Linked DNA regions of Homo sapiens. The protein of the gene in region 1 purifies or fractionates together with the protein of each later gene. This does not show direct contact. Each region holds a gene or a part of one and is shown in the gene's direction. Other genes may lie near its edges. The genes, in order: KIF6, MLLT10, HEATR5A and ACADS.

Region 1 (3,568 bases):
GTGCCTGTAATTCCAGATACTTGGGAGGCTGAGGCAGGAGAATCACTTGAACCCCGGAGGCAGAGGTTGCAGTGAGCCGAGATTGTGCCACTGCACTCCAGCCTGGGTAACAGAGCAAGACTCCGTCCAGAAAGAAAAGAAAGAAAAAGAAAGAAGGAAGGAAGGAAGGAAGAGGGGAAGGGAGGGGAGGCTGGAGGGAGGGAGGGAAAGAAAAGAAAGAAAAAGAAAGAAAGAAAGAAAGAAAGAAAGAAAGAAAGAAAGAAAGAAAGAAAGAAAGAAAGAAAGAAGGAAGGAAAGAAAGAAAAGAAAGAGAAAGGAAGGAAGGAAGGAGGAAAGAAAGAAAGAAAGAGAAGAAAGAAGAAAGAAAGGAAAGAAGGAAAGAAAGGAAAGAGAAAGAAAGAAAGAAAGAAAAAGGAAGGAAGGAAAAGAAAGGAAGGAAGGGAGGGAGGGAGGGAAGAAAGGAAGGAAAGAAGGGGAGAGAAAGAGAGAAAGAATGAAAGAGAAGAAAGAGAAAGAAAAAGAAAGAAAGAAGAGAAAGGGAAGAAAGGGAAGAAAGGGAAGGAAGGGAAGGAAGGACAGAAGAAAGGAAGGAAGGAAAAGACAAGACTCCAGCCTCGGTGACAGAGCGAGACTCCATCAAAAAAAAGAAAGAAAGAAAAGGAAAGAAAACGGTGGGGTAGGAAAACAGGCGTCAGTCTCAGCCTAGGGAGATGGAGCTTCTGCAAAGGGCAAAGGGGGCCTCTTCCTTCAGAGCTTGGGGTATAAATGCAGCTCCTGGGAGGCAAGACACAGATGCAGTGCCCAAGACCCAGGGGGAGTGGCTGGTGGCCTCCCCTCCCCCCGATTCAATCCTGGGAAAAGTCAGTGTCTGCATGCACAGCCTAACCAAAAGCATCCTGTCTCCCTTTCAGGTTTGGGAAGCAATTGAATTTCCAGGAAATATCCATCCATGAATTATGCCAGCAAGAATGAAGCACAGATGAAGGCAGCGCCCCTCACTTGCTCTGGCTTCAGAAGTGAACTATGGGCTGCTGGGAGCAACTAGTGACTTTGATTCCCATGGAGGGGACTGTGTTTCTTTAAGGATGCTGACCTGGAGGCCACCGAGAGGCTGGGGCTGGGGCTGACCACAACATCCTTCCTGTGGTTGCTGGAGCTGCTGGCAGGGCCAGGCAAGGCCAGAGTGCTAGGGGCAGGGTGAAGGCTTCAGCTCACTGTTGTAGTGACGTTTTGTGTAGATCTTTATAAGCTTTTGAGAATGTGAAATAGCACCATCAAAATATAATGTCAGAGGATGCTCACACCAGTGGAATGTGGGGGGAATATTTTTATTTTTAACGATTTGCCAGCTCTCTCCCTTGGCCCGTGCTCTGGTTTGGAAGCCCAGAAATGGCCATGACAGGTCCAGGCAGGATGTCCCAGCCACAGGCAAGGCAGTGGAATGCAGGGCATCCTGAAGGCCAATCCTGATCTCCCAGACCACATCTTTCACCATCAGCCTCTTGGCCAGGATGACCTGGAGGCAGTGCCTGAACAGCTGTGTCTCCAGGGAGCCATCTGCCCTGCAGGGTCTAAGGACATCATAGCACCCAGAGAACAGTGGGCAGCTCCCAGGGGCTCTGCTGAGAGCTTGAGAGAGGGCAGTGTGGGTACCTTGGGCCTCACAACCTTCACCCAGCCACTTGGGAGGATTTGGGCTGACACTCCCCACTTCCACAGGGAAAAACATAGCTGCCTGGGGGTCTTGTCTCCATGGGCCCTCTCCATGACAGATCCAAGGGAAGGTGGGCAGCCCTCAAGGAGGTTCTTGAAGAACTGCCCCCTGGGCCAGGGGGTTCCAACCCAGCTGCAGCCAGGGAGGGGCAGCGGAGGGTGAGCAGGAGTGGCACCTGGAAATGAAGCTAACTGGATAAAAGTGCTGGTCCACTGCTCCTGGTGTCTCTGTCCTATAAATACAGGACCTGATGACCCTGGAGGGGAGCAGAGTGGTAATATAGTATAATTGGCTTGATTTTCTTTTTCGTTTTTTAGGACTGGGTAACAGGATCATGCAGGAGAAGATTAAACCATTACATTTCTAAGCTAGGCAGGCCCATCGAGCTCCTCTAATCCACACCCCTATTTTATATAATTAGAAGGCCAGAGTGAAGGGGAGATTCAGCTTGCTGTTCTATGCCACTGACAAATGTCCCCTCTTCAGGGGGCTTCCCCTGACCACTCCATCTCGAGTCACCCCCTAGTTATCCCCTATCCCATTACCATTTTTTCTGCATCACTATCTGACATGTTATCCTTCCGAACTTGCCTATTTTTGAAATACCTGCAACCCCCCATAATACTAAGAGCTCCAATGCAACAGGGACCTGTTTGTCTTGCTCATTGCTGTGTCCCAAGCACAGAGTCGCTGTTCAGTAAACGGTCCTTCAGTTCATGAGTAGACGAGCCAGAACCCAGATGTGTTTCTCAGGCTGGTGTCACTCTGACTTCCCCCAGGCTCTGACTGAATCCCATCGGGACAGGGGCCAGCATCTCTGGTCCACTCCTGGCCCTCACAGTTCAATGGAACATAGTAAGCCCTCTGTAAAGTCTGTAGAACCAGAGGAAGACCAAATTCTGATTCTAGAAGCCTCCCCAAGAGTCCATGGAACACACATGTAACTGCACACACACACACACATACACACACACACTCTCAAGAGCCCTGAAGATGGCATGGCATTTGCCCCAGTCCCCTATGTAGCAGCAGCAGTATTCTTGGCATGCCTTAGTGCCCTCAGCCCTCTAGAGCTGGGTAGAGTCTACTAACTTTTATTTTCTTTTATTTTTACTTTCTTTTATTTATTTTTTGAGATGGGGGGGGTCTCTGTCAGCCAGGCTGGGGTGCAGTGGTGCGACCATACCTCACTAGTCAGCCTCCAACTCCTGGGCTCAAGCCATACTCAGCCTCCAACTCCTGGGCTCAAGCGATCCTCTCACCTCAGCCTCCAAAGTAGCTGGAACTACAGGCATGCACCACCACACCTAGCTCGTTTTAAATTTTTTGTAGAGACAGGGTCTCACTGTGTGGCTCAGGATGGTCTCAAATTCCTGGCCTTAAGCGATGCTCCCGCCTTGGCCTCCCAAAGTGCTGGGATTGCAGGCATGAGCCACATACCCTGCCAGAGTCTTTCAACATTAGATCTCCCACTGAGACATCATCTCCTGGATCCAAAGGCCTTACTGACAGAGATGTGTGGCATGGCCCCATGCGGGGTGTGAACCAGCCTCCTGGGGCAATCACTAAGACAGGAAAGGAAATGAAGACAGAAAAACACACAACATGGGATCTGGGGCCACTGGTGTCCAGAGCATATGCAAAGTGTGTGCAGCAACTGGCCAAGGGGCCTTTTGCTCCGAACATCCCCTAATGGAAGCCCAGCCTTTGATATGGACACATGCTTGACAGCAGTGCACCTTCCCAGAGTTCACTGGCCTCTGCAAATGGGAGAAATTGATGCAATGTTTTGAAAAGACTTTCCAGCAATCCACCTGGGATCAGTGGAGCCACGGATGACAAGAAGTATCTGAG
Region 2 (3,568 bases), on another chromosome or scaffold:
CATGGACACACTAAGCTTGAAATCTCTTTAGATGTACAAGTCAAATGGAGATAAGGCAGTTGCACAGTAGGTGTCTGGAGTCCCAGGCAGAGATGCAGTTAGTTAGAAATCTGGGGTTAGTGCTGCACAGGTGATGAGAGCCATCAGATTTGATGCGGACTCCTAGAGCATGAAGACTGAGTCCTGGACACCCTAGAAAAGGAGAATAAGCCAGTAAAGAAAGGCTATTGAGAAACTGTGGCCAGTGAGCCAAGAGAAGGACAGTGTGGCATCTTAGGGGCAAGGTGAAGGAAATGTTTCCAGAAAGGGAGGAGTCAACTGTGTAAAATGCTTCTGTGGTAGGGTAAGAAAGAATTGACCAACCGGGCGTGCTGGTGCATGCCTGTGGTTCCAGTTAATTGGGAGGCTGAGGTGGGAGGATCACTGGAGCCCAGGAGGTTGAGGGTGCAGTGACACCTGCACCTGACAGGGACTGTTTCTTTCTTAAAGGTTGTCTAGAGGCTTTTTACAGTTTGGGTGTGATGAAAGTAAAAACCTCATTAAATGGTTCAAAAGGAAATGGGAGGGAGAGGAAGTAAAGATAGCATATGGGCACCTCAAGACATGTCACTTTGGAAAGCAGAGGAAGGGGAAGCAGGAGGCAGATGTGGTGGGCACACGGGGCAGTTTCGACTCATTTTGAATGTGACAGCGTGTGTGTATGTTGATGGGACATTGCTGGGATAGGAGAGAAGAAAGGTGCTAGCAGAGGAGGAGATGAGAACGGTATTTCACTGCCCCAGCAAGGCAGGCAGAGCAACTGGAGGTGGGTTTTATGTGGAGGGTTGAAGCAATCCCACTTTCAGTGCTTCTGATTTTCTTAATTAGAAGTAAAGTGATCAGCAGAGGGAAGGAGATGGGTGTTAACGGTTAGATAAGAGGGGAGATGGGAAATAGAGAACTTGTAGAAGGGGAGAAAGTATGGACCGAGACCCAAGTGGGATTGTGGCTCAGGTGCAGGGCAGGCCTGGCCCTGTGGACAGTCGTGGGGCTTCCTCCAGACCCATTTCCCTAGCACTCTTCATTCAGTTGGGCTGCTTGGAGAATGCATTGCTTAATTAACATAGAAATTACAAAGGCTGACATCCTTTCTAAGTATATTTATGTACTATTTTGCTGCAGTCAAAAATATATTGAAAATACTTTTGATTCTGGATCATTTTCAGTCTGTTTTTAGAGTGGTGTTAAAGGCACACTGCATGTAAGTGTATATAAATTCTTAAATGCTGGCCGGGCGTGGTGGCTCATGCCTGTAATCCCAGCACTTTGGGAGACGGAGGTGGGCGGATCACGAGGTCAGGAGTTCGGGACAAGCCTGACCAACGTGGTGAAACCCCGTCTCTACTAAAAATACAAAAATTAGCCGGGTGTGGTGGCGCGTGTGTATAATCTCAGCTACTCAGGAGGCTGAGGCAGGAGAATCGCTTGAACCAGGAGGTGTAGGTTGCAGTGAGCCGAGAGCACACCACCGCACTCCAGCCTGGACAACTAGAGCGAGACTCGGTCTCAAAAAAAAAAAATCTTAAATGCTGACACTAAGATGGGATCTTGTTTTTTCTTACCAGTTGCCTCATCTTAATATGAGCACTAAAACTCCATTTATTTGGGTGTCTTCCTATTAATCAAGATTTTACTCTAATAATAGCATGTGTAGCTGTCTCATTTCCAGAACATGGTTAAGGAATTTTCAGCACAAATTATTGCTTGGAGACCATGAGGACTAAAGGACTGTACTTTTTCCTTCATCTGCCAATGTCGTGGGCTAAAGTTTGTTCATTTACAGGGATCAAACTTAACGTAGGTGAGGATTTTTTGGAAGCCTCCGCACAGCTTCCGCTCGACACTCTTGCTTGACTCTGCTTCCCCCAGATGACTTGCATGTTTGCTAAATCCAGTGGTCCCTTCTCATTCTTCATCTTAACGTCACCTGGCAACGGCATTAGACAGAGTTGATCGCTTTTCCTCCTCCTTGAAACATTTCCTCCTCTTAGCTTCCAGGATACCACATCATCTTGGTGTCTTACTACCTAACTGGTCATTCCTTTTTAGCATCCTTTCCTGGGTCCTCCTCTTCAGCCTGAGAGTGCCCAAGGTGGAATTCAGTGATCTCTCATCACTGTCTGTAAATAGCATCTCTGTGCTGATACTTACATCTCCAGCCAGACCTCTCTCTGGAGCTTCAAGCTCCTGTAATGCAGCTGCTCACTCAGTAGCTCCGCTGGCATATCTTAAAAGACATTTCAAACATAACGTGTCCAGAACCGAACAGCTGATCTTCCTGCACAACCCCGCCCCACCCATCGTTTTCCTCACCTCAGCTGATGGCAGCTCCATCCTCACTCTGACACCCCACATTGACTCCATCCTGAAATCAGACTGTGCCACTTCTCAAAACCTTCCCGTTTTACCATGAATACAAGCCAAGGTGGCCATGCCTTGCCACTGCAAGCTCTGTGTTCTCCTCACTTCCTCCTGGCTCCCTCCACCCTTCCCGGGTCCTTGCTGCCACTGGATCCTGCTGGGCCTGCTCCTCTGGAGGCCTTTGGCACTGCCTGGAAATCCTCACCTGCCCCCATATCCACCCAGCGAATTCCCTCTTCTCCTCCAAATCTTCATCCAGATGTTAACTTCCCAATGAAAACTGCCCTGGGTAATCTGCTTAAAATTACAACCTGACCATTAAACCCTACTCCCTCCAGACTTTCTCATACACAGTTGTGTTTCCCTTGACGCAGAGCAGTAATCACATTCTAACGTTTTCATTTATTTCCCTTTCCCTGCTCAATGTGTTTCAAGCACCAAAAGCAGTGCCTGGCACCTAGTAAGCACTCAGGAAATCTATAAATATACGCTGCATGGAGTATATGCTTGCTGTAGAGTGGTAACTGCATCAAGAAAGCACCCTAATGACAGGCAGAAACGGGAACTTTAAGGTTGTTTTAAGTTTGGAAAGGGTTTGACCACGCATGATGCATTCAAATGTCCACCTTGATTTCTCTTAAGCTGCTGCACTTCCTGATTGATCATCACGGATAACCTAATAGAGCTCTCCTATGTGTGTCCTGTTTTGAAAATAAGCTGTTTGCTGAAGATACTGACATTTTATAGTAGATGGTTATTATCTAGTGCAGCATATTTTTCTAGATGAGATACTTGTTTTCTTTCTTTGCAAATATCTAATATTAAAGGAAAGAAAACATAAGGCAGCTCATCTGACTGCTGAATTCCGTGCTTGGGAACTCATTTTCTCTCACATGTTTTTTGCCTAAGGAACAACATCAAGCCTTTTTGTATCAGTTAATGCAACATCACCACCAGCAGCACCACCAACCTGAACTTCAGCAGCTGCAGATCCCTGGACCAACACAAATACCCATAAACAACCTTCTTGCAGGTACACAGGCACCCCCACTTCACACAGCTACCACCAACCCATTTCTCACCATCCATGGAGATAATGCAAGTCAGAAAGTAGCAGTAAGTATATTTTCCTTACTACATCTAATGAAACAAGAACTGTATTGATTAA
Region 3 (3,568 bases), on another chromosome or scaffold:
AGTTCCTCAAAGGTCTTTAAAGCAGTATTTTCTTTCTTAAGTGTTTAATCACTTTATAATAGCTTTATTCAGATATAATTCATGGCTAGGCACAGTGGCTCATGCATATAATCCAGCACTTTGGGAGGCTGAGGCAGGCATATCACTTGAGGTCAGGAGTTCAAGACCAGCCTGGCCAACATGGCAAAACCCCGTCTCTACTAAAAATAGAAAAATTAGCCCGTCATGGTGGCGCATGCCTGTATTCCCAGCTACTCGGGAGGCTGAGGCACGAGAATCGCTTGAGCCCCAGACGTGGAAGTTGAAGTGAGCCAAGATAACGCCACTGCACTCCAGCCTGGGCAACAAGAGACTTTGTCTCAAAAAACAAAAAAAGATATAAATCACTTACCATGAAGTTTACGCTTATAAGGTATACAATTCAGGGATTTTGAGTATATTTGCTATACTGTACAGTCACTACCACTGTCTAATTCCAGAGTCTTTTCATTACCCCAGGAAGAAGTCCATTAGTTGTCATTTCCATTTCCCTTTGCCGCAGCCCCTGACGACCATGAATTTACTTTCTGTCTCTATGAATCCACCTATTCTGGATATTTCATGTTAAAAAAAAATCATTCAATATATGGTCATAAATGACTTGCTTCTTTTTAAAAAATCACTTTTAAAAATCACTTTTTAGGCCTGGCATGGTGGCTCACGCCTGTAATCCCAGCACTTTAGGAGACCAAAATGGGAGAATTGCTTGAGCTGAGTTCAAGACCAGCCTGGGCAACATAGTGAGAGCTCCTCTCTACTAAAAATTTTTTAAAACTTAGCCAGGTATGGTGGTGTGCACTTGTAGTAGTCCTAGCTCTTTGGGAGGCTGAGCCAGGAGCATCACTTATGCCTAGGAGACTGAGGCTACAGTGAGCTATTATCATGCCACTGCATTCCATCCTGGGTGACAGAGTGAGACCCTGTTTCAAAAAATATATCATTATGGCTTTTATCCTTCGTGGCACACATTTCTTGCTGAGAAACTTTACATTATATTTGTGTTTATAAGCTATTTAGATCTGGGACACTTACTTAAATAGCATTTGACATGAAACTTACATGTTTCATGAAAGTTTATGTTGAATCATAGCAAATAATACCCTTTCTTTTATTGATGGTGACAGTTACTTCACTGTCTTTGTAGTTAGTTGGTTAGTAGCCCACTGAGGACCTAGTGAAGCCTTGATTTTAATGTTTTATTCTTATAAGAGCAACATGGTGGATAGAAAGTGTATTAATTATGTAGGCTGGGCATGGTGGCTCATGCCTGTAATCCAGCACTTTGGGAAGGTGAGGTGAGTGGATCACCTGAGGTCAGGAGTTCAAGACCAACCTGGCCAACATGGTGAAACCTCATCTCTACTAAAAATACAAAAATTAGCCAGGTGTAGTGGCACGCACTTGGGATCCTAGCTGCTCAGGAGGCTGAGGCGAGAGGATCACTTAAACCCGGAAGGCGAAGGTTGCAGTGAACCAAGATTGCACCACTGCATTCCAGCCTGGGTGACAGAGCAAGATGCTATCTCAAAAAAAAAAAAAAAAGTATATGAATTATGTAGATAAATGTACTAGAAGGATTAAAAAATAAAAAGAGGGTGGGGCAGGGTATGACTTTTTTTTTTTTTTCAAGGCAGGGTCTCAGTCTGTCACCCACGTTGGAGTACAGTGGCACAATCTTGGCTCACTGCAAGTCCCGCCACCCTGGCTCAAGCGATCCTCCCACCTCAGCCTCCCTAGTAGCTGGGACAGCAGGCATGCATCACCATGCCTGGCTAATTTTTTGCATTTTTGGTAGAGACAGGGCTTTGTCATGTTGCCCAGACTGGTCTCAAACTCCTGAGCTCAGGCAGTCTGCCTGCCTTGGCCTCCCAAAGTGCTGGGATTACAGGCGTGAGCCACCACAGCTGGCCAGGGTGTGACATTTCTTTTCAAGGTGTTATTTGTTGATAACTTTTAATTTTTAGTACCAAATTAATAATTGATCTGAAGCTAAATAAGAGATTGGCTTATTTAGGAAATAAAGTTTTTCTTTTGTGCGCGGACTTAATTTAGGACAACTTTCATGAGATATATTAGTAGAAGTGATTCTTAGGTTAGAAAATTATTTTGAATAGGAATGGTGAGAAGGGAGAAAAATGAAGTTAAAAGAAAATTATTTGTAATTATGTATTTTTCTATTATAATGTGGCTTTTGATAAAAATATATTTTATATCCATGTGGCTATGTATTCTTTTGACTATTTTATGGTCAGGTGAGTTTTATCTATGTACCTAAGTCATCATTTGTTTATCCTTCCAGGTCTCCTTGACAGTATCTTGTCAGTTATTCTTCATCCTAGCATTTCTGTTCGACTAGCAGCAGCTTGGTGTTTACACTGCATTGCCGTGGCATTACCCTCCTACCTAACACCACTCTTGGATCGTTGCCTTGAACGGCTTACTGGACATAAGTCTTCACCTGAAGCAGTGACTGGCTTCAGTTTTGCTGTAGCAGCTTTGTTGGGAGCAGTAAAACATTGTCCTTTAGGAATTCCTCATGGAAAAGGCAAGGTAATGATTTCATTCTCTATGTATGATAATGAGGTGCTTTTTGTTAGAAGTATCTTCACATAGTAACAGAATTTGTTACTGAATGCTTTATTTTGCTGTACATCTAGCCCTGCCATATAAGTACATTTACAATTTTATTTTAGAGGATAAATAGAGCTGCAAAAGAAATCTTAAATAACTAAGCTTAATATTTAATAATTTAGTTAGTGGTATTATTTGTGGTATTACTTTAAAAATAGTTTACATATCTTAAGATCAAGTAGACAAATAGTTATATTAATGTTCTTAGGAACGAAGGTTTTCAATATAAGTAGAAAGAACTAAAACTGTAGAATTGAAGTTAAGTAAAAGTCCCATACGTTAGATTCAAATTGAAATTGTCAGTATGAACTCATTTTATTTTTTTGAAAATACTTACATCCTCCTTTTGTACAGTGAAAAGGCCTAAAAGCAATGATAACCCAGTGTCAGGGATACCCCTAGTGCCCAGATTATAGCTCTAAATACTGTTTCCAACCAAAAAGGAATCAGGACTCTATGGAGCAATGGCTAGTTTCAGGTCTGGGGCAGGAAATGCACAACATAAACTTGGGATATCTTGTCATGCCAGAAAGTAAGGAAGTCATCAAGGAATACTATGTTCATTTTAAAAAGAGGTAACTTAAGGGGCTCCCACTGATCAAAGATGGCATGATTTATACATCAAAATTAATAATGACTACAGTGAATTAAAACATACTAGATAATATATAAAATTTCATGAGTTCATAATGATATTCAACTTCTCCAAATTGTATTGCTACCAAAAAATGTCATTTTCTGAGTAAATTTAGAATCAGACAAATAAATGACACAAACCTAGTGAATAAATAACCCAGTTTTAATGTACAAAGAATTTTGAAGAGAACTAAAGAAAAATTTTAATGAAACCTAGATAATACAACATAGGCAAGCAAGGTGTTTGAATTTTGTTTCTTTT
Region 4 (3,568 bases), on another chromosome or scaffold:
ATTACAGGCGTGAGCCACCACACCCGGCCTTAAAAATGAGTTTTAAAAGGGACGTAAAACATTGTTTTTATATGAGGGACCCACTAACCGTTTCCCAGATATGAAGGCAGCAGGTGCTGCAGGCTTGCCTTGTCTGTCACTGCTGGGAAAGGGGTCTTACAGTTTCTTACGGTTTCTCTTGGGAGTCTGGAGACCACCAGGCTCAGCCTCATCAGTGCTGTTGCCTCTTCTCAGGGTGCAGGTCAGGGTTGCTGGGTCACAGACACTAGGAACCAAGAGTGACCATTGCAGGGGGCTCTAGGAGGCCACCCCTTGAGATAGCTCTGAAGGTCAGGCCTCTCTGTAGAAAATACTAAAATATTGGGGCTGGGACGGGCGCCTGGCTGCTGTTAGTTAATTACCATCAATTTACATAGGTCAGAAACGATGGACAAACCCGAACCCATTTTTTTCCCTTGACTGCTTCTCTTTTTCTTTTTTCTTTTTTTTTTTTTTTTTGAGATGGAGTCTCACTCTGTCCCCCAGGCTGGAGTGCAGTGGTGCGATCTTGGCTCACTGCAGCCTCTGTCTCCCAGGTTCAAGTGATTATCCTGCCTCAGCCTCCCAGGTAGCTGGTACTACAGGTGCCCGCCACCATGCCTGGCTAATTTTTGTATTTTTAGTAGAGATGGGGTTTCACCATGTTGGCCAGGCTGGTCTTGAACTCCTGACCTCAGGTGACCTGGCTGCCTCAGCCTCCCAAACTGCTGGGATTACAGGTGTGAGCCACTGCTTAATTATATTTTGGGTTTCTCCTTTTTGACTGTCTCGTCTCTTCCCTCTCCTGCCACCCCTTTTTCCTTCCCTCGGTGCTGGTCTCCCTGTCTCTTTTTCAGGAGGCCCTTTAACGAGTGCACATTACCATGGTTATTGCTTTTGTCCCCACTTTTTTTCTAGAATGTTCCTGTAGCTGGCCACAGTTTGTTGCCTGAAATCTAGAGATAAATTTCAGAGTGAGAAGGCCTGGGAAACAGCCCCTGTCACCACTGATAAAATGGGGTGAGGTGACTGTGTCCAGGCTCTGGGATGGGATGGAGAAGGCTGTGCTCTTAGGTGCTGCCCCAGAGCGGTGCTCCTCTCTTTTGAAATTTGCTGTCTCAACACCAGAGTGGGAGTGAGTGGAACTGCCATGTCTTTCACAGCCACAGGTAGATGCTTTATTTTTTAAATTATTTTTGTGTGTGTGTGATGGAGTCTCGCTCTGTCCCCAGGCTGGAGTACAGTGGTGCGATCTCGGCTCACTGTAGCCTTTGCCTCCTGGGTTCAAGCAATTTTCCTGCCTCAGCCTCCCAAGTAGCTGGAACTACAGGTGCGCACCACCACACCCGGCTAATTTTTGTCTTTTTAGTAGAGACGGGGTTTCACCATGTTGGCCAGGCTGGTCTCGAACTCTTGACTTTGTTATCCGCCCGCCTGGGCCTCCCAAAGTTCTGGGATTACAGGCATGAGCCACCGCGCCCAGCTGGTAGATGCTGTAAAAGAAAATGCTGATGGTGAGAAAGGAGGGAAGACAGGAGCTGGGGGAAAATTGAGGGCGATGGTATATGCTAGTGAGGTCCTTTGGGTGTGGGAATTGTGAATTCCTACAACTTTTGATTCTAGCTCATTGAGAAGTGTCGCATTAGTCAGAGGGAGGCGGCGCTGTGTAGGGAGGAGGAGGCTGGGGTTCTGTCTTGCCTCCTGGTGGCCTAGACCTGGCCACTGACACCACATACCCTTTCTGTGTGAATTCCCTCATCTGTAAGAGGAATATGGGGTCACCCTCATTCTGCTACCTGTCGGGACGTGTGACCAAGCATTTTAGGTGAGTATGAGGAACTGAACGCACCTAGGAGAGTTTCATCCTTTTACTCTCTTTCTGGGAATTTGGGTTCCCACTGTGTTTCTGGGGATGAGATGGAGTTATGGAGCGATTGGCTCATGTGCCATTTATTCCAGGGTTTTATACCAACAAGTTCCGGGGTGAAAAGGAGGGTGTGTCTCTGTCCAGGGAGATCTGAAGGTGCTTGGAGGGTGAGGCGGCTTGAGCTAGTTTAGCCTTATTCTGTTTTGCTGGTAAGCTAGAGAAAAAGGCTTTTGGTGAGGTTCATGCCTAGGCCTGACCGTGAGTCTTGGACAACTGCATATTTATTTTTGTTTTTGTTTTTTTGAGACAGGGCCTCACTGTCGCCCAGGCTGGAGTGCAGTGACACAAACACAGCTCACTGCAGCCTTGACCTCCCGGGCTCAGGGCTCAAGTGATCCTCATGCCTCACCTCCTGCAGTAGCTGGGACCACAGGTGTGCACCGCCATGCCTGGCTCATTTATTTTTATTTTTATAACTTTTTGTGGAGATGGGGGTCTCGCCATGTTGATGAAGCTGGTCTCAAACGCCTGGACTCAGATGATCCTCCTACCTCCGTCTCCCAAAGTGCTGGGATTACAGGCCTGAGCTACCACACCCTCTTTTTAAAATTTTTTTAATTAAAAAATTTTCTTTTAGAAACAGGGGTATCATCATGTTGGCCAGGCTGGATTTGAACGCCTGGGCTCAAGTGATTCTCCTGCCTCAACCTCCTCCTGAGTAGCTGGAGACCTGCGTATTTCTAGCACTTGGTAGAGTATTGTCCAGCAGCAGAGGTGTTCCTTAATAAAATAGTTTTTTTTTTTTTTTTTGAGGCGGAGTCTCACTCTGTTGCCCAGGCTGGAGTATAGTGGCACGATCTTGGCTCACTGCAACCTCCACCTCCTGGGTACAAATGATTCTCCTGTCTCAGCCTCCCAAGTAGCTGGGATTATAGGCGCCCACCATCACGCCTGGCTAATTCTTGTATTTATTTTATTTTATTTTATTTTTTTTATTGATCATTCTTGGGTGTTTCTCGCAGAGGGGGATTTGGCAGGGTCATAGGACAATAGTGGAGGGAAGGTCAGCAGATAAACAAGTGAACAAAGGTCTCTGGTTTTCCTAGGCAGAGGACCCTGCGGCCTTCCGCAGTGTTTGTGTCCCTGGGTACTTGAGATTAGGGAGTGGTGATGACTCTTAAGGAGCATGCTGCCTTCAAGCATCTGTTTAACAAAGCACATCTTGCACCGCCCTTAATCCATTTAACCCTGAGTGGATACAGCACATGTTTCAGAGAGCACAGGGTTGGGGGTAAGGTCATAGATCAACAGCATCCCAAGGCAGAAGAATTTTTCTTAGTACAGAACGAAATGAAGTCTCCCATGTCTACTTCTTTCTACACAGACACAGCAACCATCCGATTTCTCAATCTTTTCCCCACCTTTCCCCCTTTTCTATTCCACAAAACTGCCATCGTCATCATGGCCTGTTCTCAATGAGCTGTTGGGTACACCTCCCAGACGGGGTGGTGGCCGGGCAGAGGGGCTCCTCACTTCCCAGTACGGGCGGCCGGGCAGAGGCGCCCCTCACCTCCCGGACGGGGCGGCTGGCCGGGCGGGGGCTGACCCCCACCTCCCTCCCGGACGGGGCGGCTGGCCGGGCGGGGGCTGCCCCCAACCTCCCTCCCGGACGGGGTGGCTGCC

Evidence for each region.
Region 2: the proteins of KIF6 (region 1) and MLLT10 purify together in Homo sapiens (affinity purification with mass spectrometry; one large-scale study listed by BioGRID and IntAct). This does not show direct contact.
Region 3: the proteins of KIF6 (region 1) and HEATR5A purify together in Homo sapiens (affinity purification with mass spectrometry; 3 studies listed by BioGRID and IntAct, with this or other methods). This does not show direct contact.
Region 4: the proteins of KIF6 (region 1) and ACADS purify together in Homo sapiens (affinity purification with mass spectrometry; 2 studies listed by BioGRID and IntAct, with this or other methods). This does not show direct contact.

What each region holds. Positions count from the first base shown.
Region 1 is NC_000006.12:39,333,892-39,337,459, reverse strand, and holds part of KIF6 (kinesin-like protein KIF6), read left to right. Parts: intron 1-911; coding exon 912-928; 3' UTR 929-3,568.
Region 2 is NC_000010.11:21,736,721-21,740,288, forward strand, and holds part of MLLT10 (protein AF-10), read left to right. Parts: intron 1-3,309; coding exon 3,310-3,516; intron 3,517-3,568. UniProt on the Homo sapiens protein: Probably involved in transcriptional regulation. In vitro or as fusion protein with KMT2A/MLL1 has transactivation activity. Binds to cruciform DNA.
Region 3 is NC_000014.9:31,382,542-31,386,109, reverse strand, and holds part of HEATR5A (HEAT repeat-containing protein 5A), read left to right. Parts: intron 1-2,338; coding exon 2,339-2,589; intron 2,590-3,568.
Region 4 is NC_000012.12:120,728,778-120,732,345, forward strand, and holds part of ACADS (short-chain specific acyl-CoA dehydrogenase, mitochondrial isoform 1 precursor), read left to right. Parts: intron 1-3,568. UniProt on the Homo sapiens protein: Short-chain specific acyl-CoA dehydrogenase is one of the acyl-CoA dehydrogenases that catalyze the first step of mitochondrial fatty acid beta-oxidation, an aerobic process breaking down fatty acids into acetyl-CoA and allowing the production of energy from fats.